Regions from separate parts of the Homo sapiens genome. Here regions 1, 2, 4 and 5 are each linked to region 3. Evidence: fine-mapped expression QTL. A gene starts in region 3. Each other region holds a variant in brackets. All regions are shown on one strand. Distances are between the middles of the regions. Region 1 overlaps WDFY4 (WDFY family member 4). Region 2 overlaps WDFY4 (WDFY family member 4). Region 3 holds the start of WDFY4 (WDFY family member 4). Region 4 overlaps WDFY4 (WDFY family member 4). Region 5 overlaps WDFY4 (WDFY family member 4).

Region 1 (6,056 bases), 95 kb after region 3:
CCTTGGTCCTGAGTATCTGCAGATGAGTTGTTCTTCAACTTTGCTCCTCTTTTAGAGCAAGATGTTCTGTTCATTGTGCATCCCAAGGGTCCAGCCTATAGCTAGGGACTCAATTGACATTGAAAAATTGGCTCATTTCGCTGGTGACTGATGTAGGCTGAGATGGACACATTACCTGCCTTAGATCTCTCTCTAGAGAGAAATATGAGTTGGGCTGATGGCCGTTGAGAATAGACCAATCTTTGGCAAGTGGCTTCTATGCACAGCACTGCACTTAGCTGAAAACACGCTGGGTGGGACAGTGCAAGTGCCTGATGCTGCCTGAGCCACACGCTCTGTTAGGAGAATTGGGTTTGGGGTTTCTATGGGATCATGGGTGCTGGGGAGCCATTGCCTTCATGACGTTTTTCCATGTGAGTTGGCACCAAGTCTGAGGACACAGCAGCTGATCCTGCCTGTTCTGTGAGGACAATGGACCTGTCTATATCGCCAACCCTGTTATGTGATGGGAGGGCACATGGCATTCCTAGATTGGTGCCCTTTCCTATCCAAGGTTCAGCTGAGCTAGGCCAAGGTCCTCTGCCCCACAGAGCACACTGCCTGGCTATAGATCAGCTGACCAGGAGCCCACGTGTGACGGACCTCAGGGAGATCGAGATCTTCTCTGCTCCCTTGGCAAGGCAGCATGCCATAATGGGGAGGAGACAACTGGTGATTAGGCAAGACACCCAGTAGGTGCTGCACCTGGGCTAAATCAGCACCATAGTGAATCTGAACATGCATGCTCAGCAGGGCAGAACAAAGCCTGAGGGCATGCCTGTGTTCCCACCCAGGTGCCACCAGACCGTTCCCTCCTCCTGGAGGTCTGACCTTCTCCTGCTGGTTCCTGATCAGCCGGCATGGAGCTGCCACTGAGGGCCACCCGCTGCGCTTCCTGACGTTGGTGCGCCACCTGGCCAGGACTGAGCAACCCTTTGTTTGCTTCTCCGTCAGCCTCTGCCCAGACGACCTCTCCTTGGTTGTTTCTACAGAAGAGAAGGAGTTTCAGCCTCTGGGTAAGGTGCTGGGATCCAAAGCCAGTTTCATCCACATGTGGGGGAAATGGGGCTAAGTCAGAAGCTCTCAACACAGGTGTGGTTAGAAACCTGGTGACCTTCTGTTTCTCCTCATCCTTTGAAATTGCTCCCTTGGGTTCCATACCTGGTGAAAGGTCTACAATATTTGTTGTGGTTCACTGTGGCCTGGGCTCTAGGCTTGTAAGTGTCAGGCAGATGAGGCCCCAGCCCTTGGCACAGCTTCAGAGATGATGCTCAGTGGCTTTTCAGAAACTTCGCCCTGGCAGAACAGTCACAATGGGACCCAGGGCTTTGCCTTGCTGGGACACAGGCTGCATCCTCTCCTGAGTGAGGTTTGTGAAGAACACACACAATTTAGCTGGAGCCGAAGCAGCTACAGACATATAGGCGCTCCCACATATGCTCAACCCCAAACCCAGAAGGCTGGCCCATGCTTGGCATGGCGCCCAGGGCCACCCCTCCTTTGGCAGTGCTAGAGGCCAGCCCTGGCTCTGCCCTTTGGAGCCCAGCGTTGTTCTCCAGGCTCATTTGCCTGAGATGGTCAAGTCCAGTGGATTCTGTCCACTTGTTCTTCTCCTGTGTCCTGAGAGTGTCACTGTTTCATAGGGAAAAACATTGGGAGGCCCTATGAAACAGTGGAAGCGGCTGACACCCTTGTACACAGCACAACTGCCTATCCAACTCTCTGGGACTCGGCCTACAATGGAGTCTCTGTGGAGGTAGTCTACCTTGGGATAGACCTGAAGCCTGGCTTCTGGGTTTGAATCCTGGCTGTATGACCTTGGGCAAGTCACCCAACCTCTCTGTGCCTCAGGATGGTAAATTGGGCATGTATGAGCGCCTACCTCACAGGGCTGTGAACATGACATGAGTTGATATTTGTAACATGCTTAAAACTGGCACAAAGGAAGAGCTCAAAGAATGACTGCTGCTATTGCTGCTGCTGTTGTCATTTTTCATGAGAGGAGGATCTAGGGCTCCATGGTACAAGGCCCAGTGGTTGACGTCCGCCTATGCCCTCCCCATTCTCCTGGGTTCCTGCAGTGTAGCACCACACGTGAGACTCAGTGTTCATGCTGTCTTCCAGATGTCATGGAACCTGAGGATGACTCCGAGCCTTCTGCAGGATGCCAGCTTCAGGTCAGGTGTGGCCAGCTCCTGGCTTGTGGTCAGTGGCATCACTTGGCTGTGGTTGTCACTAAGGAAATGAAAAGGCATTGTACAGTTTCCACCTGTCTGGATGGACAGGTCATTGGCTCTGCCAAGGTGAGATGGCTCCTCCAAGCTGCACTTGCCCCACAACCATACCTCCTGCTACTACCCTGAAGTGGCCTCGGTTTCATTCTATGTTTTTGTTGTTGTTTGTTTGTTTGTTTATTACTGGTAGGGTTGGCATCTAATGAAATCTGCCTTACTGTTCAGGAAACTTGGCTGAGTTCAGACATGAAAAGGACATCTTTAGAAAATGCATTGAAGGTCACGCTACCAGGGCAGAAGGCAAGACATGCATCCAGGTCTCTAAGAATAGTCATGTTCATGAAAATAGAAAACTCCAGAATGAACAAAGCAAAGCTTCTCATTTTGAGGGGCAAACTCCTCAGGGAGGTCTGGGCAGGGCCTAAGGTATGACTTTTCCAAGAAGCTCCCAGGTGAGGCCAACGCAGCTCATCTTTGCACCACACGGAGGAGCAGGACACTAGAGTGGGCAGACACCAACACGTGTCGTCAGATTTAGAGCAAGAACCATGAGGAAGGTAATAGAATGCAAATGTATAGCTGGAGGAAGCATCTCATGGCTGTCATTTAGAGACACCCCAGGTATAAGAGAAAGCTGGGAAAAGGTGGAGCTGGCAGGCGCCAGCAGCCATTGTCAGAGAAGAGAGGGCCCGGAGGACCATAGAAGGCAGGTAGGGCTGGATTTTCACACAAGTTCCAGGGAGAGCATCCCAAGCTGGCTGCATTTTAAAATCACCTGCAAAGGCTTTTTAAAGTTCTCTTGCACAGGCTGCACCCAGAATAATTACATCAGAATCTCTCTGGGTCAGGTAATTTGACAACTTACTAATGTTTGTAAAATTTTCTAGGTGATTCTAATATGCAGCCAGAATGGAGAACCTTACATACACAGGGTTTCTGGATTCCCCCTAAATGCCATAGTGTTCCTCCCCTGACCTTGCCCAGTTGTGACCACCAGTAACATCTCCAGACATTTCCAAATATACCCTGGGGGTCAAAGTTGTTCCAGGTTAAGAGTCATCAGATGAGAACAAATTCTTAGTCCCAAATTCTGTGGGACACATATAGGTGAATTTGATACCATCTGCTGGTAAAGTTCTGTTATCAAAAAAAGGCAGTGATGACCAAATATATATATAT[G/A]TGTGTGTGTGTGTGTATATATATATGTGTGTGTGTGTATATATATATATGTGTGTGTGTGTGTATATATATATATGTTTTTTTGAGATAGGATTTCGCTCTTGTCGCCCAGGCTGGAGTGCAATGGTGCGATCTCAGCTCTCCGCAACCACTGCCTCCAGGATTCAAGCGATTCTCCTTTCTCAACCTCCTGACTAGGTGGGATTACAAGCGCCCACCACCATGCCCACTAATTTTTGTATTTTTAGTAGAGACGGGGTTTCACCAGGCTGGCCAGGCTGGTCTGAAACTCCTGACCTCAGGCGATCCACCTGCCTTGCCCTCCCAAAGTGCTGGGATAACAGGTGTGAGCCACTGCGCCTGGCTGACCAGAAAGATTTTGACAGGGGCATTGAAAGAACAGGTCCTTCAAAACATAGTTAACCTTTTCTGCAATTATTAACAATATCAGTCCTCCCTCCTTCCCTTTCTCTCTTTCTTCTTTTCCTCATTAAATATTTATTGAGCACCTGTTATGTGTTAGCTAATATTTTAGGTGCTAAGAATTGTTTATGCCTATAAGCTAAAGACCTCCAGGAACATACATATAGTATAAGGTGCTAAGAATTGTTTTAGGTTCTAAGAATTATTTATGCTTATAAGCCAAAGACCTCCAGGAACATACATATAGTATAAAATAAAAATTAGATTTAAACTGACTATAGCAAGAGATTTCCTATCCCATGGGGTAGTAAGGAGTTAGGAGTGGCTTGTTACAGAAACTAGATTCATTTTAGGTGATTTTTAAAAGGGTTTAAAGAAGTGGAGGTCTGTCTGTTCTGAATTGGGTGCTGCTGGAAAGAGGTGCAATTTGGTGACTGTGAATGTTAATAACTTTTATCCAGAAGGTAGAGACACGGAACAGGGCTGGACTTATCATTAGAGAGGAAGCAGAAGTCCCTCACATTAGTTGGGATGGGATGTGTGGTGTCTTTTGTGGTTGCAATATCTTTGTTTTTATCTGTTTAGGCTCAATTACTGAGTTCACTTGTTCTTGTCTTCTTTCACAGAATATGTTGATATTTTGTGAAATACTTCAAATACCTTGAGGCATGTCTTATTGATGTTTGTACCTTCCTTGAACTTGGCGCAGGGGCTGACACACAGTAAGCATGGAATAAACACTTGATGAACTGAATTGAATGTGCAGCCACAGGAGGAACATGACTGGCTGCTAGTGTGGTTGGGTGAAGTGGTACAGGCATTAACATCCTCCCTGCGGGACCTGCTAAGCCTAGGGCCATCAACAGGGAGGTCAGGAGTGGTGTGTTGCTATATGGAGTGGCCAAAGCCAAGACTGACAGAGTGCGCTTTCCAAAATAATCTCAACAAGTTGGGTCAGGACCAGCAAGTGAAACTCAACCAAGATAAACATAAAGGCCTGTGTTTTGATGCAAACATCTGTTGGACAAGAGTAAGATGTGAGAACTTCAGCTTAATTTGACTAGTTTAACAGCCCTTCTCAAAATGCTGAGCCTTTGTTTTTATTGCCAAAGGAAACTTACATAAATTTGTAAAGATATGGAGCATTTTAATAGTTTGAATTGGGCAAAATGATTTGGGAACGATATGAGACATTAGACATTTATTAGGCAACCTGAATGGGGCAGTGTGCATACACTGGGAATTTGGAAGACAGGAGCAAGGTGGGTTGGAGGGGTGAGTGGTGCTTCAGTGTGGGAGAGAGAGGAGGACTCTGTGCCTGCGAGAACAGAGAGATAAGAGAGCACAGAAAATCATACTCCTGGCAAGCCTTGATGGCTGAACAATTGGTTTGTTTTTATTTGAAAATCTCACTTAATTGGTAGAGTGAAAAAGAATATTTCTGAAATTCTGTAAACTCTCATTTAGAAAAATACAGTCATCCCTCAGTTTCCTCAGGGGATTGGCTCCAGGACCCTTCCTGGATACCAAACTGCATGGATACTCAAGTCCCTTAAATAAAATGGTGTAGTATTTGCAAATAATAGATGCATACCCTCCTGCATGCTTAACTAAGCTCTAGATGATTTATAATACCTAATACAATGTGAATGCTACATAAATAGTTGTCATACTGTATTTTTTTATTTGTATTTTTTATTGTTATAGCACTATTTTTTATTGTTCTTTTTCCTGAATATTTTTGAGCCAAAGTTGATTGAATCCAAGGATATGGAACCCCCAGATATGCAGGGCCAATTGTACATATTTATATATGTACAATTGTATATATCTTATGTATATATCTTATGTATAAAATCAAAGATGTATATATCAAATGTATATATCTTATATATAGTGATTTTATAGTAATTATAAGAATAATATAAATGCATTTTGAAATAGCTCAAAAATAGAGAAAAGATTAGCTACCCTCCTACTACTTTATCATATTTTGTAATTTCAGTTTTATCCCTTTAAAAAATAGTGTGGCCTCGAAGTATAGAAAATCTTGTATACTGCTTAGTTCATTTAACCTCTCATTTAACCTAACACTTAGGCTATATGGTATAGCTTATTGCTCCTAGGCTATAAACCTAGACAGCATGTTGCTATACTGAATACTGTAGGCAACTGTAACAC
Region 2 (6,056 bases), 130 kb after region 3:
TTGTCCCATTATTATTGGCTTGTTTAGGCTTTTAAATGTCTTCTTGACCTAGTTTAGTTAATTAATATTTTAAAATAATTTCCCATTCATTTAATTTGCACAAATGGTCTCCTTTAACTCATGTCATTTTCTGTGTGATTGTTTCTCCCTTCGTATTCTCAGTTTGTGTCCTGCTTTCTCCTTCTTGGACTCTCTTGTGACTTAGGAGTTGAAGGCTTGTGGATTTATATAAATAACCAGCTCTTGGGTACATTTATCAGTCTCCTGATTTTATTTCTGTCAATTTCTAAGATTTTGATTTTGGCGTCTTCATTTTTTGTTATGTTCTGGAATTTCTGTGACTGTAGTGTTAAAGCTCTCTTTGATTCACATTTTCTAATGTCCATGTGGTGAAGATTTTTGGTTTTTAAACTTTTGTTCTCTATTTCTAGTTATGTTTTGGCCCTGCTCAGATCATGTGATCTGTATATTTTTCATCTTCAAGAAATTTATTCATGGTTTTATTGTAGGCCTAATGAGCAATTAATTTAGGGGTACCTGAAAAGATGTATATTTTCTGTATGGAGCATAAGGAATCTGTTACCTGTTTAATCAATTAATGTTATTCAAAATAAAGCAAACAAAAGGAATCACATGCAAGCATTTAAAACAAAGAAAATATGTAATATGCTGAGAGAAGTAAAAATATAAGACCAAACATGTATGTCATAACAGCAAACATAAAAAGGTTAAATTTCTATATTAAAGATGTGAATTTTAGACTTGGTGAAAAACAAGACTCAGACTTCTAAGATCTAACATGTATGTATATACAACAATAACAAAGTTACTCAGTGAGTTTGGTACAATCAAGATCTGTGTCAGGAAAGCATCATCTACCCAATACAGTAGACAAGTATCAAAAATAAAAGGCAGAAACTTAAAAGATAAGAGAAAAAGGCTAGGGGTAAACATAGAACCTACTTCAGAGGGTTGTTGTGGGGTGAGAAGAGGCATATGTATGAAGCCCTTACAACGTCTGCACATATTAAACCCTTCCTCAATTGGACACTAGTGTCTGGTGCTAATCTGCAGTCTTAAATAATGTATCTTGTTGAAAGTCTCAGGAAGGAATCTTCTCCCTAGACCTCAGCTCCTCTGGTTAGGGAGGCAGCGCCCATCATGCTGCCCTGCACTACCTCTCACCAAGTGTGCCTCAGCCCCTGGCAGGTTCTGAGGATGGTGCCTGGGCACAGACCTTCCCGGCCAGCGTGCTGCAGTTCCTCAGCCTCGTCCACCGCACCTACCCCCAGGACCCAGCGTGGCGAGCCCCGGAGTTCCTCCAGACCTTGGCCATAGCCGCCTTCCCCCTGGGAGCCCAAAAGGTAGGACATGCTGCTGTCCCACCCAGAGAGAGCAGTTGTGAGCATCATCATCCTTCAAGGGCAAAGGGCAAAATCCCTCCCCTCCCCCCTAAAATTAAAATACATTTTAAGGCAACTTGAGCGGAACATTGAATAAGCAGCTTGGATAACCATCCTTTTTTGGCTGAGATACACCTTGAGGTCATTTTCAGCTCTGAGATTCAATAATTTTTTTGAGCTGTTAAGAATCTCAGTAATGAGAAGTCTAATGGCAGATAAAGTCCATTGTCTGTGGCATACACAGGCACTGACAAGGGGAGACAGTGACTCCCATTCCAGGAAGTCTGCTGCTGTGCACCACATGGGGGAGGGCAGTCCTGGGAGTGCATCCTGCAAAAACTTTTGCTCTTGGGAACCCTCATCCAACTTGCAGGCCCCTGGGCCATGACTTGTGTGCCCTTCTAGGCAGTGGGTTTGCAGAGGCCCAGCTTAGAGCCAGACAAGCCAAGGGGAGGGCAGAGCCTGATTTAAGGATGAGGTCTTGGGTCTTATGCTCTGGGGGTTAGAGAAGGGGCTATGGGAAGACATGTGAGTTTGAGGCCTCCAGCTAGGCCCAGCAGGTCAAAGCTTGGCTGGGTCAGGGCCGTGTGGGACTCAGGTAGGCTAAGACCTCCTGGGAGCTGGGAAGCGAGAAGGAGGTGAGGACTAAAGAAGAAGGTCAGGTATGGAAGAAGGAAGGGCAGAAATTCACACAACCACCCCCACTCTGGTGGATTAGGAAGTGGAGACCCAGTGAGGGCAAGTGAGCTAACCGTGTCTTCCTGCAAGTTGCCAACTGTAGCTAAAGGAGCATATTTGAAAGGTGAGCAATGCTACATAGGGGGGTTTATAATCCATGCCAAGTGTGATGCCAGGCCTGGAGTGGTTGCTCCATAAACATTTGCTAAGTGCCCAAATGAATGAGCAACATGCTCTCTTAGCTAATCTTTTCCAGAAGCATACCCATGGCGGCAGCCTCCATCTCCTGAAACTGGTGCTTTAGAAAACCTGAATTGCCACCTGATGAAGGTGGTGTCTGAGAGGGGAAGCTGAGATTCAGAGAGGCAAAGTGGCACTCACCAGTTTCCTCCAGGCTCACTGAGGGTCACAAAACCCATCTCCCAGATTGATTGCAAGAATGAAATGTACTGAACTTCATGCGATTAACAAGAGACGGAGCCAAAGTTTAAATCTCACTCTTACCCCAAAGCCTTGTCCTTTTCATTACAGTCAGTTTAAAATAAAATTAAATGGCCAAATAAACTTTAAAAGTAGTTTTAATAAAAAGACTAAATATAAAGACCAGAAGTTTCACAAAAAGATAACATAGTTTTGAAATAGTTTGATGAATTCATATCAAGTAACTTACTAAAAAAGTAAGATAAAAAAGCAAACAAGAGTGAAGGAATGCAGCGTTGTTTGCAGGAGAGAGGTGGGATAGGACCCACAGCCAGAGGCGCAGGCAGCCTGGCCAGGGAGAGATCAAGGGCGAGCCTACAGGCTCCCCCTCGACACTTCCCTGGGCAGGTTTTCTGCAGGGGTCCAGCGGCCTAACATTCTCTACCCAGATGCCCAGCTCAGCCCCCATGCCCAAGGGCCAGGCTCGCCATCTGCTGAGTCGGGGCTCCAGCCGAGTGCCCCCGCCAGCAGCCCAGGTGCACACTCTGACCCAGGGCTCCTGCTCCCCATGGTCAGCAGTTCCTGCCCAGGGGAGGGTCTGGCCCAGAGTCACATCCCCAGCTGATCGCGGGCGAGGTCGGGCTTTTGTCTTGGGGCTCCTGGCTCTAATTCCAAGGTGTACCTCCCAGCCATCCTTGCCTTTTTCAGCGCTCCAAGTCAGCTCTGCCAAGGCCTTTGTTGT[A/G]TAGAAAACATGCCAGACCCTCTTCATGCAGAAGGCTGGTGGCCAAAGGCTTGGATTTGCTGTGAATTTATATGGCATCTTTCCAATCAAGGCCGCACGGAGCTAATTAATGCAGTCACTACCTCCCTAGGTGCCATTAAATTCATTTTATGGCTTAATTAAGAACGGCCGCATTAATTTTATGAATGAGCAAAGGGAGGTGCTAACAGATGAATGCGCAGGAGAAGTTCACGGGCTGGGAGTCAGGAGTCCCTGGCCGCGTGTCCTTGGGTGAGTCATTCAGCCTCCAGCATCTCTGTGTCCTCCTGGACGTATCTGGGGTAATGACCCCTGTCTCGTTGATCTCCCAACATTTTATAAATATAAAACAAAATAGTGGATGCCAAAGTGCTTCAGAAATTAGAGGAAAGAACTCTTTGGAGTCCCACTTCTCCACCGTTCTTGCCTGAGGAGCCTGTCTGTGGGCATCAGCAGAGACTGGGCAGGAGGTAGAGGTGGGGTCCCCATCACAAGATGGGCACCGACTCTCTCTGACTGTCTACCAGGGGCTGGGCATTGCCACGTTCGTTATTCTCTCATGTCATTCTCCCAGATCCGGTGTCAGATGGTTTTTATTGTCTCTATTTAACCGATGGGGAGCTGTGGCTTGGAGATGTGAAGCAGCTTGCTCCTGGCACATTCTGGAGTTCATCATGAACACTGCAGGCCTCTCTGACTCTGTGGTTTAGCTTCTTTGCACAACACTTGGCATCTCATATTCTCAAACAGTAGCAGGCCACTTTATGAGCAGCTGGATCCTGGGCAAGTTGCTTTCCTGTGCGGAGCCTCAATTTCCGTACATGTCACTGGGCATGACAATAATCCGCCCATGTACATGGCACAGGTTGGTGGGAAAGAGCTTGAGGCAGGGCAGGCCACTCATGTTGGGGTTCTCTTGTCTTTGAGGGGGTTGGGGCTGAGTCCACCCGGAACACCAGCAGTCCTGAGGCCGCAGCTGAAGGCGACAGCACAGTGGAGGGTCTCCAGGCTCCCACCAAGGCACATCCCGCCCGGAGGAAGCTGAGGGAGTTCACGCAGCTCCTCTTGAGGGAGCTCCTGCTTGGAGCCTCCAGCCCCAAGCAGTGGCTGCCCCTGGAGGTGCTCCTGGAGGTGGGTTGGAAAAGGTGACATTGGGCCATGTGCTGTGGAGGCTGCCGGCATACCGGCACTGCAAGGGCAGGATGCACCCAGGGAGACAGAGGGCCTGGGGGCCACAGCGAGTGAAGGGGAATCTGTGAACCATGGGCCCCAAAAAAGCAACAGGTGATAGAGGAGTGAGCACAGAGTCCCTAGAAGCAGAGCCTGAGGTGGGAGTTTTGTGGAAGTGAGTTATTGGCCAGTGGGTTGGAGGCGGTGTTCTCAGGAGAAGCAGGGAGGGAAGCAGAGGGGCAGGAGGTGAAGCTAGCCCAGAGGTGGTCCCAGCTGGAGCCTGGCCCAAGGGGGGTTCTGGGGTGCTCTCTGCCTCCCAGGGCCGGCCCCACCTGTGGCACCTGACAGGTGGCCGTGGGCTGTGGGCTCCCCTGACTTGCCTCCTTACCCTCGGAAGTGGGCGTTGCTTCCTGGATGAGGCAGCTCAGTCACAGAGGGTGGGCCCCCAGAGAAGGGAAAATTGTGAGCAGCCCACACTGCTGGCAGATGCGGCATAAGTGTCCCAGCCAGGCTAGGGAGGCGGTGGGCACTGGGTGCACACGATGGCCCTGTGGTTGCTGTCTCAGTCCCGGGCTGTGCTTCCAGGCTTCTCCAGACCACGCCACCAGCCAACAGAAGCGAGACTTCCAGTCCGAGGTCCTGCTTTCTGCTATGGAACTATTCCACATGACAAGTGGAGGTGATGCAGCGATGTTCAGAGGTGAGTGGGGCAACTCGGTCCCCTCCATTCATGACATGAGGCTGCTGACAGTGGAGAGGAAACCAGCATGCTGGCCAGGAACTGACCCTAGCTGTGGGATGCTGCCTCCACCTGGCGTCAGTCCCTCCAGGCATCATCAACAAGAACTCCCTGGCTCCTGCCTTGGGGCCCAGTGGAGGGGTGCTTGCTACTTTCCATGACACCCTTGTCATGCTGTGCCACTTACAGACAGAAAGCCCTTTTGCCTCTAAGCAAAAATCGGCTCTCCTGTAGCCTCAGTAGAAATGCAACCTCTTCCCATAAGGGAAACCAAGATACCACAATTTAACCTTCCGTGCTCAGCATTCTGCCTGGGTACGGGATAGGTGCACAGCTGATGTTTCTTAAACAATGAACCTGGATGAAGATGCTGCCATGCCCCTTCAGAGCTTAAAATTGAAGGTTCATTCAAAAAACTTGGTTCCAGGGCAGCTGTACCTTTTCAACAAGCCTAAACAAAAGCCTTTTCTGTGGTTCCCAAGCCACAGGAATCCCTAGGAACATGAGTCCTACTCTGGACTTCTCCTTGCCTCCTACTCAGAAGCCCTGACTTCATGATCCTTCTCATGGAGAGACTGGAATGCAGGAGAGTAGCAGGGTGGTGAAGTGTGGGTTTGGCAATCCCAGTTCTGGACTTGGCTCTGCCACTGGACAGTCATGCGACCCTAGTCAGGTGCCTGGACCTGTGAGTAAGGACGACAGTCGTGGTGAACTCACAGGGTTGTGCTAGGGGTTAGTTGAGATCATCACACACATGGCTGAGCACAGTACCTGCTGTGTTGGTGAGCATAGATGGATAATGACAGTATGGCTTTATCCTCTGCCTAGTGTAGCAGCAGGGCCCCTGGTCATCATGATGCCTGCTCATTTGTCTCAAGCAGCACAT
Region 3 (6,056 bases):
CAGGGAGACTACTGTCTCTGGGGCCCCACCTGCCTGCATCATAGCAGAAAAAGCATCACTAGAAAAAACTCCAGGGCAATTGTGGGGCTCACCTTGTGTGTTTTCCTTATCTCAAGGATCACAGTCTTGCTATTCAATGCCTGAAAACAATTATCTTGTGTATTTGAACTATTCTATAGTTGCTTTCAATGGGAGGGTATGTCCTATACCAGTTACACCACCATAACTGGGTGCAGAAGTAAAACTGCCATTTTGGGGCAATTGTTTAAAAATCAGAGAATCTTACATTGCCCTTTAACAAAAATACACATTTACATTAGCAGTTCATAGTTGCCCTGGCTGCTTCAGTGTCTTAGCTTTGGCAACTCTCTCACTAATAATAGCTTGCATTTGCACAGCCCTTTTCAGTATTTAAAAACTCTCTTGGCCGGGTGCGCTGGCTTACGCCTGTAATCCCAGCACTCTGGGAGGCCGAGATGGGCGGATCACGAGGTCGGGAGATCGAGACCATCCTGTCTAACACGGTGAAACCCCGTCTCTACTAAAAATACAAAAAATTAGCCAGGCGAGGTGGTGGGCGCCTGTAGTCCCAGCTACTCAGGAGGCTGAGGCAGGAGAATGGCGTGAACCCCGGGGGGCGGAGCCTGCAGTGAGCCGAGATCGCGTCACTGCACTCCAGCCTGGGCGACAGCGAGACTCCGTCTCAAAAAAAAAAAACCTCTCTTGCAAATATTATTTGATTTGTTCCTTCTAACAAGGCATTCATTCATTCTGCAAATAAGATGTCAATTATCTCAGTTAAGATAGTGAGAATTTCAACCTTGAGTTTCTAGCTCTGAATTTAGTGCTCTTTACCTGCCTGCTGCTGGCTACCCGGCAAGGTGCTGGGGTGGGTAGAAGGTAGGAGACCTGGGTGCAGGTGGGCCCTCCAGCAGACTTTGCGAGATCCCACTATGACAGACTCTCCGCGCTTCCTCTGGGCATTCACAGGCATGGGGTCCTGGCCTGTCCCATGCTGGCCACCCTTCCTGCCTCTGTGGAAGTTCCTCTGTCTAATCCGCTCTTACCATAGGCCTCTGATTTCAGGCAATATCTTCTTGTAGATTTTATTTATGATTTCATTGGTGACAATGACGAGGGGTTTTCATCATATACAACAAACACTTCACTGCAAATTCTCTAAGGTTTTCTCTTTCCCTTGGCTGGCACTGCATGTATCCTTTCAATTTCTCTTTTCTTTTCTTTTTTTTCTTTTTTTTTTTTTTGAGACGGAGCTTCGCTCTTGCTGTCCAGACTGGAGTGCAGCTGGATAGATCTCCTATTTTGGCTGCTGTCTACTGACAAGTTTGCACTGGTGGAGGTTGAGGTTTTGTGACAAATGTTATTTTCCTCTTTAAACCAATCTTGGAGCTTTACTCCATGTCATAACAAGTGATGTTGTTGCTGCCTCTCAGTCAGTCATGCATGGTCCACTGGTTTTGTGAGCTAGAGACAAGCGATGAGCTGCACTGAGGATCAAGGATCAGGCATTAGCGCTAACAAGTGCCCTTGCTCTTTGGCAAAATTCTCCTTTTACAGAGCACAAGCAGGATTGTGTGTGAATGGACATGCTTGTTTGTACTGTGGAGATGACGTTATGGATAGGTGACATGGATAATTCAGCCTAGTTTATATACTCAGAGGAATGAGAATTTGGAGTCTGAGTTTCAGAGACTTCCATTCTATGGTTTTAGATGTCCTCTCATCCTTGCCTCAGTGTTGGCCGCAGGAGGACTCCCCTCATTGGTGGTTCAAGTTCTATCTGAGGATGGGGGAGGAAGAAATCCAAGTGGGCAACTCTGAGCTTGGTGGGGTGAGGGCTGCCCAACCCATGCCATGTCCAGGGGTGCACTTAAACACACCTCTGATTAGATTCACCTAACACCATCATTGTTCTCATTTTGCCAGAGGCCCAGAGAGGAGAGGTGTGCACCAGTGGTCACACGGCTAGTGAAGAGGGGACACAGAATCCAGACCTACTCTTCTAGGGCTGGGCTGTACTTTCCATTTTGTCCTTGGCCCCAACCAGCACCGCTTGACCACGGAGGCTGCACAGCCAGCCCCAAGGGGCCTTGCTGCAGAACCCAAGTCACCCGCCAGAACTCCAGCAGCTCCGTGGTCGGCTGGAGAGTGGGCAGAGTCAGGCATCTGCCGGCTCTCCACTTCTGCTTTCTCCAGGAAATGAGCAGAGACCCAGCTCCAGTGATTCAGAGTGAAACGGCGCTGAGGACTGACGATGTGGGGCCGGGTCCTCTTCCCCCGAGCCTGAGGGGCTGCAGCTGGGGATAGGGGGCCCATGCCTTCTGATGTCTACAGGCGCTGACGGCCACCCCTCCAGGTAGGCCACCTTGCTCTTGGCCCAGCCAGGCCAGCCTAGAGGTGGGCATATGGGCGCCGCCTGTCAGCGTGGGGCCTACTGGCTGCCTCCTGGGAGGCTGACTATGGGGCACATGTGACCCAGTGCCTGGTTTGGGTTTGTGAATGTGGGAGAGGAGGTGAGCTGGGGAGCAGGAAGTGTGTGTGGCGTGGGGGGCCCATGTGGTCAGGGCCACTCCAGGGCCTGGGTCTGCCTGAGTGTGTGTCACTGCTGAAGTTTGGGAGTCAGGCTGGGCTCCAGCAGCACTCCTCGACCTCTGACGGTAGGTCAAGTCCTTTCTCGGGGTCCTGCTATGAAGGGAACCCTGGGAAGGGCTGACACGGGCTTTCCTGGTTGTCGAGGGGGCGGAGAGAGCAGGCCGACAGGACAGTGAGGCTCGCCCTCCAAGCTCCCTCATAGGCCTCTGAGGAGTGCAGAGTTGGAGGGCCATTTCCAACGGGCCTCAGAGGGAGCTGGTCTATCCCGGCCCTGTCATTACTCCACTGGGTTCTGGTAAGTAGGTGCCTCCCTGGGCTCACTTCCCTCATCTGAATTATTACAGCAAACCATTGAAACGCCTGCATTTTCTGCCTAAGCAGGGCCACCTGCTCAGTAAGGACTGATTCTTCTTTTCCCCTGAAATGAAACTTCTAGAACACTAAACCGATCCTTTGTCCCAACTCATCTAAAGTGTGGGGGGGCTGGTTTGATAACTAAGGGCTCTATGCATTACCCTTTCCATGGAGCACACTAATTTTAATATGAGTTTATGTATAGTCATTCATTTAGTTATTTAACAAATAGGTATTGAGAAACCACGCCCTGCCAGGCTCTGGTCAAAGCGGACAGGGGTCTACGGTGCTCAGCAGGTGGGAGAATAGCAGGTAGGGTGGGGGTCTTGGGAGGGTGGGGATGGCTCTAGTCTTCTGAGAGGGGACCTGTGAGGGAGGCCGAGTCCTGTGGGTTTCTGAGAAGTGTTCTTGATAAGGGTCTGGAGGAGGAGACCTCGTGGAGGTTGGTGTGGCAGAGCCGGGTAAGGGGCATGCCTGGGGTTCTGGCCAGAGAGGTAGGGAACAGGGTCAGGTCAGGGAGGCCCTTCCTGTCTGTCCATCCTGAGCACATGGGCTATTCTTTCATGAACTTGGAAAGATTTTCTGTGTTGAAAGAAAAGAAAATTTCGGCCAGGCGCAGTGGTTCACGCCTGTAATCTCAGCACTTTGGGAGGCTGAGAGGGGCAGATCACCTGAGGTCAGGAGTTCAAGACCAGTCTGGACAACACGATGAAACTCCATCTCCAAAAAAAAAAAAAAAAAAGAAGGAAAGAAAAGAAAATTTAGAAAGACCATAATAAGATAGAAGTAATAAAAACAGCATAAACCCTGTGTGCTGACACCTTAGATTTTTTTAAAGATCAGCATCATCTCTGAGGTCCTCTTCATGCCCATCTTTCACCTTCCCTCTTCAGAAGCAGCAACAGTCCAGAATTTTGGGTTTATTGTTCCCTTGCTTCTTTTTCTAATTTTACATCCCATATTTAAATCGCTATATATGTATGATTGCAAGTTGTTGAACTCTGTAAACATGGAATTAAATATTCTTTTAAAATTTGCCTAATTGGTTCAAAAGTTTGTTTCTGAAATTTCTTCATATTGTTGCATGTACCTGTAGATAATTAAAGTTTTCTGCAGTACAGTATTCTATTAGATGAGTGTACCTCAATATATTTATCTGAGATGCTGTTGATGGCATTTTAGGTATTTCAAGAGTTTATTTTTTTTTCTATTATAAGCAGTGCCGCTAGAACTATTTTTGTACATGCATCTTGGGGCATGTGTGCAAGAATTTATCTTGGGTATATACTCTAGAAATAGAATTGGTGGGTCATAGGTTGTACATATCGTCAGCCTTACTGGATGTCACCACGTTGTTTTCCAAAGTTTTTGCCTCATTTTACCCACCCCTCAGCAATGCACCAAAGTTTCTGTTGCTCCACTTCTTCATCAGCATTTGATATTGTCTGGTACTGTATTTCTGCCAATCTGGTAGAAATGAAAAGCTATCTTAGCATGTTTTTAATTTGCATTGACCAAATTACTAAGGTTGGACATCTTTTTCATATGTTTATTGGCCATTTGGGGTCCCTTTTCCTGTTCACATTTTTTGGCCATTTCTCATCGGGTTACCTGTCTTTTATCCTATTGATTTGCCATAATTCAATACATATTCTGGGTACTACTTTTTGTCATTTATATATATAACAAATATTTTTCATTTGTTGGTGCCTTGTCTCCTTATATTCCTGTGGTTTTTATTAATGACTGAATTTCTTAGTTTCAAATAAGTTTATCCACCTGTCGCTTTATGATTTATACTTGTTATGTGTTATCTAAGAAATTCTCCACTATAAGGTTGTAAAATTATTCTCATATTATTTTCAAAAAATGTTATAATATTACTTTTTACACTGAAGTCTCTAGTCTGCCTGGAAATGGCTTTTGTGTATGGCGTGAGGTGGGAAGAAACTTTATTTTATTCTGCTTTTCCCATATGGATAACCAAGAGTCTTGGCACCATTTATTTAATAGGCCATTCTTTTTTTTTTTTTTTTTTTTTGAGATGGAGTCTTGCTCTGTCACCCAGGCTGGAGTGCAATGGCATGATCTTGGCTCACTGCAACCTCCACCTCCCAGGTTCAAGCAATTATCCTGCCTCAGCCTCCCTAGTAGCTGAGATTACAGGTACATGCCACCACACCTGGCTAATTTTTTTTTTTTTTTTTTGAGACAGATTCTTGTTCTGTCACCCAGGCTGGAGTGCGGTGGTGCGATCTCAGCTCACTGCAACCTCCACCTCCCAGGTTCAAGCGATTCCTCTGCCTCAGCCTCTCCAGTAGCTGGGACTACTGGCGTGCGCCACCACATCTGTCTAATTTTTGGGTTTTTTAGTAGGGATGGGGTTTCACTGTGTTGGTCAGGCTGGTCTTGAACTCCTGACCTCAGGTGATCCACCCACCTCGGCCTCCCAAAGTGCTGGGATTACAGGCATGAGCCACCACACCCGGCCTAATAGGCCATTCTTTAGTCACTGATCCATGATAGCTCTGTTGTGAGTTGAGTTGTCATGTGCATGGGGGTCTTTCCTGGTTCTCTATTCTGTCAATTTGTCTAACCCTTTGACAATGCTAGACAACATTGTTAACCACAGGTTTATAATAAATTTCGGTATCTGGAAAGAGCCTCCCCATTCTTTTCTTCTTCCATCCTGTCTTGAGAATTCTTGGTATTTTACTCATTCATATAAATTTCAGAATTGGCTTTCAACAGAAAAAAAAACTATGTTCAGATTTGACTGGAAATATAATTTGGAAAGAAGTGATATCTTTATGAAAATGACTTTTCCAATTCATAAACGTGGTCTGTCTCTCCACTTATTTAGGTCTTCTCTAAAGTATTTAAATACAATGTTACTATTTTCTTTATAGCAGTAGTGCATATTTTGACTAGACATATCCCTAAGTGGTTTATATTTTTATATTGTGTCAATTGTCATTAAAATACATTTTTGGACTGTTGCTATTTGGACTGATTCTTGTTCAAAATGCAAGCATTTTAAACAAGAATCATTTTAGGTGTCATGTGAAGATTGTAGGAGACCAAAGGAA
Region 4 (6,056 bases), 28 kb after region 3:
AGTTGTAGCATTGAAAGCACTTTTTATAAGGACTTAGTGTTTACTTGACTATGGATTTGGGGTTATTTTTGAAAAGCGTATACCTACAAAATATTCAAAGCAGAGAGAACAAGAGCTACTTTTCACGTTTGAAAGTAGACTATGGCAGATGGAGGCTTTGGCATGTTTTCACTGCTAAATGCCTTTGTGAATATATTTCCTCTAACTTATTCATCAGAAATATTTAAGGGTTTCCAAAGATTACTTAGAATCTTGTTGGGAACACGTTTATAGGATGCATTCCATACTTAGCATTAAACAGTTGCCAAGTAACTCACTGTCCATTAATTCATCATTTTCCTCCATGTTTTGGACTTGTAGTCCCATTCATCTCATTTCACAGACTGCATAACTAGGGCTAGATTAGTAAAGATAGCTAAAGATTCTCAGCCCTAGCCCTGCCTGCCCTGACAGCCCCAGATTCTGGGAGGTGCGACAGTCTTACCCCAGTTCCCAGATCAACTTTGCCTTATGGAAGGGACAATGTGAGCAGTCCCCAGCCCCCAGTGCAAGTCACTGGCAATGGGGATGAGTTCAGCCATTACTGAGCTGCTAGTTCTCGGTGACACTTTTCCCACCTGCATGGGCAGCCCGGGCTCTGATGAAAGGACTGCACCCAAGAGCCAGGACTTGATTCTTCTTCACCTCCCTGATGTTTATTTGAGAGTTCATTTGTTTGTTGCACCAATATTTATTAAGCTCCTATACTCTGCTCTAAGGCCTGAAATATAGGAGTAAAGAAGACAGAGGTGACACACCACCCTCATGGTGAGTGTGGCCCAGAGCAGACGGCATCGAATAGCACACTGTGTATTTCATTTGGCCTGCAGGGGTTCAGAATGAACTAGTGGCCATTTTTTTTCAAAATGGAAAGTTTTCATATGAAAATCAGATTTCTAATTTATCTTGAAAATTTTGGTAGATCTAATACTGACGGTTGTATGGGAGGGGTTATGGGGTTCCCCAGCTAACCTCGGAGCTCACTCCAACATCTTTCACCCAACCCATATTACTAATGAATGTTATGTCACCGTACAGGCATGTGAGCTTGTGACTCCATATTTAAGTGTTACTATTATAAGTGAACCTTGATACTGGTCTTTGTTTTCCACACCCTGTCCCTATAATTGGAGGCATAATGACCCTGTTGTTGAACATGTGGGCTTTCTAGTCAAACAGATCAAGGCTCAAGTCCTGGCTGCATCACTTATTTATTAGTTGTGTGCTGTTGAGCAAGTTACCAACTATTGCTGAACCTCAGTTATCCATAAAGTAGAATTAATAGCATTTCAATGAGAAACCATGAGGGTAAGACAAGACAATGATTATAAAGTCCACAGCTCATGGAAAGTAGACATTATTCCCATTACTTTTCCACCAGCCTCCAGTGTACTTACTGCACATGGACTGAAGCCTTTGAGATTCCTGTCGCCAGGATTCCCTAAACTGCTGACACAATCTGCTACTCTGGATCCCTGGAACCCACCTCTGGCAAACCCTGCAGAGGCAGAATATTATAGGCTTCTCATAATTTTCTTAATATCTGTATTATTTTATTAAGTCCTACATGCCTATGAAACATGGTTTCTATTACATTCTGACGGACTAATAAAACCCTGCCAGAGCCAGAGTGCTCAGCCTTCTTAATTAATAGTTGGTGGTGGAAAGAAAGGTGGGGAAGATGGGAGATTTTTCTCAGGTGTAGTGCAGATCAAATCTAACCTGAGATGAAGCATGAGAACATTTACTGGAATATAGGCCCTTGTGTAAGAAGATAAGCTTGTAACCACTCTGTTCTGAATTTTATAACCACAAAGCAGTGTTCTTTAAGGTTTTCCATGAAGTTCCCCCTTGGAAATAACAGAACCTAAAATGTTATGCCACTTCTCCCGGAATGTGGCTGTTAACATCAAAGCCTTATACATGTATTGGTTGTCATGGAAATCATACTCTGCCTGGGCTCTGAGACTCCTGAGTACAAACAAAGAGTCCTGAACTCCCATGTGTGATGGAGCTCAACTCTATACCTGACTCTTCATTTTGGCCCAAAGAAAATTAATTAAGATTATTTGGAATATTCTTTGTTCCAAAGCAATGCACACAAGGGATTTTGAATTGTCACTTCTGCTCGGAAAGGCCATGTCCCTAGGGTGTGGGGTCTTGTCTGACTGACCCCCAGCCTCTTTGTCGGTCAGACTCTGCATGGAAGCGGTGATCTATGTTGTAGTTGGGGCTGGGTGAATCAGGTTGACAGCTGTGTGTGCCTCTCCTAAGTTGCTGTCACCTGGTAGCTTCAAACTTGTGAGTCTTGAGATTTGACAATGGGCATTGTCTTGTGCATCAGACTCCCTCAGAGCTACTTCTTTGGCATCTTCTTCCCAGAAAAGAACTTCCCGTTAGCCTGTTTGGTTTTCTTCCATATCTGACTCCTTCAAACACGAGCACTGAACTTTCCTCTATCCCTGTCTTTGTTTATACTTGAATCTGCAGTAACTGCTAGGCAAGTACAAAGGTGGGCTTGGTTTGTGGTACAGTGAATCCCAGCCCCACTGCCTCTTGAGTTGAAGAGTGGCTGCAGGGGTGCTAACCCAGTCAACATTTTGGCTATTGTCTAGGTAATAAGGAAGAGCCTAATGGGATCTCAACAAACTGGAACCCAAAAAGGGAGCTTCCCTGAGGGGAGGAGTGAGAAATGGGATTCTCATCCAGAACAGCAGGCTCCCTCCTCACCTAGGGTTCCTCACTCCTCTTGTTAGGTCAAAGAGTTCTTAGCCAGGGCAAGGTGAAGGATGTTTCAGTCCTGATCTAGGGTCAGATCCTTCCAACCTAGCCTCTACCCCTTTTCTTTTATTTCTTTTTAATATCACCCTATTCTTTCTTTGACCTGTGCTAAGCAACCTGTATATTAGAAATGAGACTAAGAGATGAAATGATGCCCTAGGTTCCAATACTAGCAAGGGGCAGAGCCAAGACTTAAACTCAGGCACCCTGATGCCCAGGTGAGCAGTTGCTTTCACTGATGATAGCTAGGTAATATCCTACAGGTTCTAACTAGCTAGCCAGACATTCTGTTCAGTGTTTACATGTCCTCACAATAACGCTGTGATGTAGGTAGTATTTTTATCCCAGCTTTATAAATGAGGAAAGAGAGGCTTAGGGATGTTGCATAACTTGGCCAAAGTCACCCAATTGTCAGCTGGTAGCAGAATGTCACCAGGGCAGTCTGCTGTAGGTCTGCATTATTAACCACTGGATGTCCTTGCTCAGTGCTGGGGTTTCTAGGATAAAGCAGGTCTGGTTTGTCTTTCCTTATTTCATGACTCACTGGACAATGGCTTTGCCTGGCTAAGACCTTGCCTTTTCCTTGGGCTCAAAAAGAATGTCTCCCCCACACATAGGATGTTTA[G/C]ATTGCTGACTGTAGGATGTTGCAGATAAGGAGGAAGTTTTATTTCATCACATGGAAGCAACACAGAGCCAATGACTTCTGTGGTGTGCAGAGTAGTGTTTTTAAGAAAGACTCAATAGGCTGTTGTTCTTTTCCTGCCAAGAGCCTTGGGGTTTGGTCTTTTCAGAACCTTTCCCATCGTATGGTCTCACACCAAGGGAAGAAGGTGTTCTTCTAGCAATCATGGGAAGGTGCTGGTTTTGGGGGAAGAAAATCACTTGAGGTCCTCATTTTGCACAGAGATATCCTGTAATAATAGAAATGGGGAAATCTAGAGCTACAGAAGTAGCCAATGAGGTTTATTCATAGAATGTGGACTTTGAGAGAAAGCAGAAAGTAAAATAGAGAATCCTCAGCAATTAATGCAAAATCTATCAGTGTCTGAGATAGACAACTTGGGAGGTGGGACCACATTGGAGAAAAGGGAAATATGTGGATGTGGTAGATTAGAGGTGCTGTGAATGGGCTCACACTCCTCCCTTCAAGAGGTGGGATCTTTATCCCTTCCCCTTGAATCTAGATGGATTTGTATCAACTGGGCTAATGGGACAAGGCAGAAGAGACATTTCCAAGCATAGGCCTCAAGAGGCTCACAGCTTCTTCTGCCTCTCACTTGGCATACTCACTCCTAGAGTCTAGCTGCCATGTTGTAAGGAAGCCCAAGTAGTTCTGAGTGAACACCTGTGTGGAGAGGATCCAAGGCCCTGACCTTGAGGCTGCACTTGCTGCTGACTGCCAGCACCATCTTGTCAGCCCTGTGAGCACACCCACAATCTTGGAAGTGGATCTCTTAGCTCCCATTAGCTGCCCTAGCAGAATGGAGCACAGAAAAGGTGTCCCTGCTGAGCCCTGCCCACATTGCAGATCCATGAGCAAAATAAATGATTGCTATTATTTTAAGCCACTGAATTTAGGGGTGTTTTGTCATGCACAACAGGTAACTGGAAAAGTGGGTAACATAAGAAGGAATACATCCATTTCCTAGTATGAAGGGATTGAAATGAACACTAACTTAGTTGTATTTAGAGGTGAGTGTATTTTGGTGTTTGTGTGTGTGCATATGTGCACATTCCTAGGCTGACTACTAAGCCAATGGTGCAGAGTTTGTGATGTTGAGTATGATTGATCATTCTTGTAAAAACCAAGTGTGGATCTAACTGATAGTTGAAGAAAGATAAACACCATTAAATACAATAGCAAAGATGACCAAGAATTATTTTTTTATTTTTTTTATTTTTTGAGAGGGAGTCTCACTCTGTCTCCCAGGTGGAGTGCAGTGGCCCGATCTCGGCTCACTGCAAGCTCCGCCTCCCAGATTCATGCCATTCTCCTGCCTCAGCCTCCTGAGTAGCTGGGACTACAGGCGCCGGCCACCACTCCTGGCTAATTTTTCTTTTCTTTTCTTTTTTTTTTTTTTGTATTTTTAGTAGAGACGGGGTTTCACCATGTTAGCCAGGATGGTCTCAGTCTCCTGACCTTGTGATCCACCTGCCTCGGCCTCCCAAAGTGCTGGGTTTACAGGTGTGAGCCACCGCGCCCGGCCACCAACAATTATTTTTAGATGTGGTGTCCTGAGGGGACAGTAAGGGTAAGCCCTCCTCTTTGTCCACTCCTGACTCTACCCCATCTTGGAGTGGGACCTGCAACATGGTTTATTCCCATCTTCGGGAAATAACACTTTTTAGCAAAGTTTTGATGCGCCATTTTTTTTTCAACAGAGGAGAGGGTCTACTGCATCACACTCGCAGGGAAACTTCATGCAAAGTCTCAGAAATGTTTTGAGCTCACTTAAAGACAAACCTGCCAAACTCTGCAGTAATGGAGTAATAATGACATTTTGTTCGTGCTGGAATACCAACCATGTTCTCTTTGTCATTCAAAAGCTGGGTTTTTCCTCTCATCTCCCCTAGAGCTTAGCCATTCTTTATTTTCCTTTGGAGACCAGAGCATCATTTTCTTTCTCTTTCTTCCATGTGAAGGGACAGCCATGAGGCACGATGGTGCAGCTTAGATAATGTTAGCAAATAAAAGTTTTTTAAAATATTGAGCAATATTCTCCCAGCATGTAAGTCCCAGTTTGGGAAAAAATTAGGGCCTTTTGGAAGCTGCCTTAACTCTTTGGGGTCCCCATGGTACCATTTAGTAAATGATTGGCTCTGTGCATCAAACAGCACCCCGGTGGCCTGAAAGAGTTAACGCAGCTTCCAGAAGTGCCCATCGAGGTCCCAGGAAGGAGTCTGGGCCTTGGGAGATCTGGCTCAGAGTACAATTACTGTTCAGCTCACAGTGGCCCAATTTGCTTTATTGTGGAGTGCCTCCTGGAGTCCCACTGCTCCAGAGACGATATAGATGCTTCTGAGTCAAATGCCTGCAAATTGGTCTTTGAGGGGTTTGTCAGTGCAGGGAGGAGTTGCAGGGATTTGTTAGAAATACATCGTAGCAGCGTTCTCATTTCTAGGGAGGGAAATCATCTCGCCACAGAAATTCCAAGGCAAAAGGACAGACTTTTTCTCTCCAGGGATTAACATGTCTGAGTGGCAGTTGGCTTGCAGGTGGCAGCTATAAGTTTCGT
Region 5 (5,796 bases), 37 kb after region 3:
ACTCTTTCACTTGCAATCCCACTTTTTGGAATTTATCTAAAGGAAATAATCAAATGACTAAAACTGGGATATCTGTACAGGATTTGAAATGGTAAATGAGGAGAAACAGGAGGGGCTGGGTGAGGGCTGAGGAAGGGAGAAACCTGGAGAGGCACTCCTGGTGCTCCTATGGGGGCAGCAGGCACCTGGCAGGGCCATCCACCGACGCCAGATGCAGCAGGCTGTGGGGAAGGCGGTGGACTGGGCTCTGTGTGTTTGACATCTTAGGGGCTCGTGTTCAGGTGGATGTCTGAGCAGTTAGAGAATCTGGAGGCGTTGGTATAGGGATGATGGTTGAGGCTGTGAGGGTGGGTGACGTGGTGGCCTTTTGCATGCACCTGGGAAAGGAAGTCGAGCTGTCAGCTTGGGCTGGTGAAGGGTGGCATGGCAGGCAGTGCTCATGCCCTGCTTGTGGCATTGCTATCTCTGACCAAGTCCCATCTGTTGCTTCAGGCCTGGGAACACTCCGTGGGGATCATCTGCTTTCCCAGTCTCCAAAGGCTGGCTGAAGACGTGTCTGACCAGCTTGCCCAGCAACTCCAGAAGGCCCTTGTGGGGAAGCCTGCGGGTAAGAGCATGGAGGTGCTGGCAGACCCTCTACAGAGAGCAGTGCAGCCCTGCATGCCCTCCCAGGCCTCTCAGGCCCCCCTCTGCTTTCGCGTGGAGCTACAGTGTTGCCTGCCAAAGAGAAGTAGGCCCCACTCTGCCACTGAGTGCCTTAGGGACCAAGGGAAATGCAGGAGGAGGGAAGAGGGGTCGGGGAGCCCTGCTGTTCCTGGGACACAGACATAGACAAACACACACACTGCACATAATACATTATACACGGACACACATAGACACACTACACACAGATGCTATACACACACAGACACTACACACAGACATTATACACAGATACACATAGACACACAGAGATACAGAGACACATACACATACACTACACACACAGACATACACACTACACACAGACACATACAGAGACTACTCACAGAAACTACACACAGACACACACTCTACACATGCAGACACACCCAGAACACACTACACACAGATATACACATAGGCACACACACACAGACACACTGCAACACAGACACACACACAGAACACACGGGACCACGGTCTCTGGGAGGAAGTGCTAGGATTGAAGATGCACCTGTGTGTTCAGTGGAGCTCTTGGTCCTGAAAAGACACAGAGGCCAAAGTGCATCTCTTGTGGGGCCTCCTGACTTGCATTCTTCCCCTCATGTGCGCTGGTCCCTGGAGGCAGGGCAGAATTTCACAGTGGCTGAGGGCCGAGGGTCAGGAGGAAATTCTGAGGGGAAGAAATTGCTCAGCATGGTGTAGATTTCAGGAATTCTTGCAGCATAAGAGACTGTGTGATCCAGGAAGTAGGGGGAGATTCTGGATTGTGGGGAGTCTGATAGCCGATTAGCTTGTTCTTACTCATTGGCAATCAGGAACCACTGATGGTTGCTAAACGGGGACGGTGGCACAAAAAACGCTGTCTTCCAAGGAGATTAGTCTGGCAGGGTGTGGAGCGTTTGGTAGAGATGCAGGTGGCCTTGGGGATGTGTAGGCAAGATGCCAAAGTCCTCTACAGATGCTCAGGCACATCTCCTGGGAAGAGGGGGCCCTGGATGGAGGGGAAGCTGAGTGGGCAGGTCGCTGTATGCCCTGCTGGTGACACTTTCTTCCAGAGCAAGCTCGGTTGGCAGCTGGACAGTTGCTGTGGTGGAAGGGGGACGTGGATCAGGATGGCTACTTGCTCCTGAAGTCAGTGTACGTGCTCACGGGGACAGACTCGGTAAGTTTCAGACCATCAGCCTCTGCCCTGGGCACTGCTCATCTAGGTGCAGAGGGAGGTCCAGCACAGGGTGGTGGCATATCCCAAGAGGGTCATTCGTTTCATAAAACAGGTTTATTATTTCTCCTCCCTCCTCCCCTTCTGGTGTAGAACATGGACTTCAGAGTCTGAAATTCCCACCTTCCCAGTTGACAAGCTGTGTGTAACTGTGGCCAGATTGCTTTACCTTTCTGCCCCTTGGTTGCATTTCTAATTTTAGGATTGGGGATAATAATGCCTCTCTTCTGGGGTTAGTGTAGGATTGATAACGGCTGATGTTTATTGACTACTTCCTACCTGTGGGGCAAGGCTGGGTGTGTCCCAGACATCGTCAGTTAATCCTCCCAAGGACCCTATGAGTCAGATCTTGGTGATGCCAGTGAGTGATGAGAACGCAGGCTTACCTACGCTGTGCACCTGCAGTCTATCTGATTCTAGAACCCATGCTCTGAGCCACTGTTCTTTATTTCTTCCTGTTAGAGTCAGCCTGAACGACATTCCCTGTAGGTACCTGTCTCGCCCTCGCCCAGAGATGAGGGCTCTCCTCTTTCTTCCCTTCCCACCCATACCCACCGCATGCCAGGAACACAGCAGGGAACCTGGGTGGCTGCTGCCCTCAGTGTAACTTCTCCAAATTCTTCCAGCTTCTACCTGCTAGCCAGTTCCAAAGCTGCTTCACTAGATGAACCCAGACATGAGATGGGCATTTGCAGCCGTGCTTGGAAGGGTGATAGGAGCACATCACGCAGCCCTTGTCTGGGGCCAGGGGGTGGTACATGACCTGGGAAGTTAACTGAAGGGAGGACCTCCTGACACTTCTTCAGGTGAACTGCCTGCATCACTGTCAGGCACAGCGACCTGAAGCACAGCACGAGGGCGCATCACATGTGCCCCTGGGGGAAGGACTCTCTGCAGTCTAAGTGGTGACACTTTAACCTAAGGGCTTGTTTTTCACTGCCTGTGCATGGTGCATCGGGGGTGAGGTGGGGGAAGGACAGGGAGAGCTGCCCTGAGGAGGTCAAGGTTAACAAGGAGTCAAATACATAGAAGACAGTACATTGCACTGTAAACCTTTCTGGCCAAGGCTAGGACCAGCAGCCTGCATCTAGTCCTGATCCTGGCCCAGACTGTACATTCGTCCTTCTCTTTCTCTGACTTCCCCAACATGTCTGTCAGGTTAACCAGTGGAATGGGAAGTTGCATGGACAGCATTCCATAGGTTGACCCCAAAGGTGTTCACATGTGTGCATGCACACACACACGTGCACACACACATGCACACATGCATCATGCACACACACACACGTGCGTGCGCACACACGCACACACAGAGGGTGCAGGTGCAGTAATCCTGGTGGAGCTGCAGGCAAAGCCCCAGGAAGAAAGACCCCAGGAAGCTCCTGGCAGGCTGGTCTCCATCTCTGCAGAGTTCCTGTCCTCTTGGCCTCTGTCTGGCAGCCCTGAGCTGTTTAGTTGAGTTGCTGGCTGTCTGATTGTCAGTCATCACCTATTGCACTCTT[T/C]GGACCTTGACGAGATCTGTCTGGGATCTAGATGAGAGGTTGGGGAGGGGCCTGATCAGGTCCTCACCATTGTTGCTCACACACATATTATCAGCCTCACCTCTGGACTGCTTTCCCTTCCTAATCATGAGGCCCTGGACCACAGTCACACAGTATGATTTGTTAGGAAGCCCTTATGTTCTAATTTCTACAGTCCCTCCCCTTTTCCCTCCTTTCCACCCTCCCTCCCTCCCTCTCTCCCTCCCTCTCTCCCTCCCTTCCTTCCTTCCATCTATGAATCTTATAAAGGAGCTATAGAGCACATAGTAAGCACTTTATATAAACTTAATCTTCACAGCCACCCTAGGTGCATCCTCTGGTTGTCAGCATTTCACACTTGAGGACTGGAGCCCAGAGGGACTGTCCCATGGCCTCACTGAAATGGCTGCAGGGGCCTGATCCTGGGTCTGGGCTGACCTGCTTCTGCTGCCTTGCTGCCTGGGGTCACGTGTGCTCTTCTCTTGCAGGAGACGCTGGGCAGGGTTGCTGAGTCTGGGCTTCCAGCCCTGCTCCTACAGTGCCTTTACCTCTTCTTTGTCTTTCCTCTGGACAAAGATGAGCTTCTTGAGAGTGATCTTCAAGTTCAAAAGATGTTCGTGCAGGTGAGTTCAAGGAGGGCCTCCAATTCCCTGGGTCAAAACCTCACTTCGGGGACAGACTCTCCAATGCTTCCCGTAGATGCTTTTGTCTTTCTCAGCCCTGGTTCCTGAACTCCTCTGTTCTCCCAGAGGGTCTAACCTCCCCCTCCCCTCCCCACCACTGCACAGTCTGCCCCACTAGCAAAATAGTAGCCAAAATTTTCTAAATATAAGCTTTGTACCCACCCCTGTGCCATGGCCTCACATGGGTCACCTCCAGGATTGCTGTCTGCCATCACAGGATGTAAATAGTGTTGTCATCCTGGGTCCATACAAACTGAGGCATGGTGAGTGAGCATGGGGTCTGGGGTCATAGAAGTCTTGGGTGGGGCTGGGATTGGCACCCTTGAGTAAACTTGAGTTTACATGTTCTCGGTGCCTCTTCCTTCCTCTCAGAAGACATCTCAGGCCTCTAAGCATCAAATGCAATTTCCTTCTGTCATTCCCCATCTTTCCTCTTCTCTTTGACTGACTAACTTCTCACCTCCTTCCCCTGCCCACTTCCGGGCAGTTTCTGCTTTCTCACCTTCTGAGACTCTGAGCTCTCTAGATAACCCTTCCTGCTCCCTGAGCTTGCAGGGGACGGTATGGAGGATCGTGTGGCCCGGGAGGATACAGAGGACTGTGGGGCCCGTCGCTGTGTGTCCAGTGTCTGCAGTGTCTCACACAGAGCAGGTGCCTGTGACTGTTCAGTGAATTCCCAAATGCAGCTGTCCATGGTACACACATGTCCACATTGGCATCCACATTAGACGAATTCCCAAGCCCATTCCTCATTTCCAGAGGGTAGTGCATGAGTTCTGGCAGGTTCCATTAACAGTGGGTTACCCTCTGAGCTGCATTTGTGGAAATGTAGGTGTCATCTGCTTGTATGTAAATCATATTCTAATTGGAGGCCAGGACGCTGCACCAGGCACTTTCACAAATGTTTACTGTGTGGCTTTTAGGTGCCCTGAAGGGAAGTAGTGCAGGGTCTGTCTTCGAGGTCTTCTGGGTATGTGGACAGAATGTGTGCCACAGGGAATAGACCATTCCTGCATTGCTCAAGGGTTTCTGTTACTTCATTTCACAAAAATATACAGAGCCCCTACTGTGCGCAGCTCTATGGCAGACAGATGGTTGCTGCAGCAAGCATAGGGCTTCACTTTGAGAGGTGACAGAAGGATGAAGAAGTCAAACAAGGGGAAAACAATCCAGGAATAAGTGTGTTGTTAGCAATTAAAAAAATAGAGATGGGGCTTTTCTCTGTTGCCCAGGCTGGAGTGCAGTAGTTAGCAATTTTTTAAGTGCTATGTAGGTAAAGCCAAAGGTATACTGGGCAATGATGGTGACAGGCTTTTATTTGTATGAGAGAAATCAGTGGAGTCTATTCTGAGGGCATGGCATTTAACCAGAGAGCTGAGGGTTGTCAGGGTCTGAGGAGGTAGTGTGGCCGGGTGGGGTGGAGGAAGTGGAGAGGAGCAGAGAAATGGCAATGCAAGCCCAGGGACAGGTGAGACCTTGGTCACATGGCCACAGCTACCTGCAAGGGAGGCAGGGAAATGGGACCTACAGCTGTGGTCCATGAAGCCCAGCTTCTCTCTGTATCAGACTAGAAGGGGAAAATGTCTTCCCATGGAAGTAGCTTGTGATATTTGTCACACTGGCAGCAGGTCCTGTTGGACCCCCAAGAGCCCAGGGGGGAGCTGCAGTGGATAAAGTGAGTGAGAAG

The links. PIP is the estimated chance that this variant, and not a neighbour inherited with it, causes the effect.
Region 1: its variant is the best candidate, but not a certain one, in a credible set for the expression of WDFY4 in whole blood (INTERVAL, PIP 0.70).
Region 2: its variant is the best candidate, but not a certain one, in a credible set for the expression of WDFY4 in lung (GTEx, PIP 0.57).
Region 4: its variant is the best candidate, but not a certain one, in a credible set for the expression of WDFY4 in whole blood (TOPMed, PIP 0.50).
Region 5: its variant is the best candidate, but not a certain one, in a credible set for the expression of WDFY4 in whole blood (INTERVAL, PIP 0.84).

The regions. Positions count from the first base shown.
Region 1 is chr10:48,777,778-48,783,833 of GRCh38, forward strand. WDFY4 (WDFY family member 4) reads left to right here. Exons shown (of 62, transcript NM_001394531.1): 18 at 834-1,055; 19 at 2,164-2,342. Among named protein-coding and RNA genes, the nearest start is that of WDFY4, 96 kb to the left of the region's middle. The variant G/A (reference allele first, on the strand shown) is at 3,453.
Region 2 is chr10:48,816,046-48,822,101 of GRCh38, forward strand. It overlaps WDFY4 (WDFY family member 4), which reads left to right. Exons shown (of 62, transcript NM_001394531.1): 32 at 1,200-1,364; 33 at 4,189-4,392; 34 at 5,017-5,131. Among named protein-coding and RNA genes, the nearest start is that of LRRC18, 120 kb to the right of the region's middle. The variant A/G (reference allele first, on the strand shown) is at 3,244.
Region 3 is chr10:48,682,625-48,688,680 of GRCh38, forward strand. It overlaps WDFY4 (WDFY family member 4), which reads left to right and starts at 2,249. Exons shown (of 62, transcript NM_001394531.1): 1 at 2,249-2,377. RefSeq lists enhancers at 1,171-1,250, 2,181-2,480, 2,499-3,039 and a silencer at 1,471-1,520.
Region 4 is chr10:48,710,922-48,716,977 of GRCh38, forward strand. All of the region lies in intron 2 of WDFY4 (WDFY family member 4), which reads left to right. Among named protein-coding and RNA genes, the nearest start is that of WDFY4, 29 kb to the left of the region's middle. The variant G/C (reference allele first, on the strand shown) is at 3,446.
Region 5 is chr10:48,719,519-48,725,314 of GRCh38, forward strand. WDFY4 (WDFY family member 4) reads left to right here. Exons shown (of 62, transcript NM_001394531.1): 3 at 493-607; 4 at 1,743-1,849; 5 at 3,915-4,049. Among named protein-coding and RNA genes, the nearest start is that of WDFY4, 38 kb to the left of the region's middle. The variant T/C (reference allele first, on the strand shown) is at 3,409.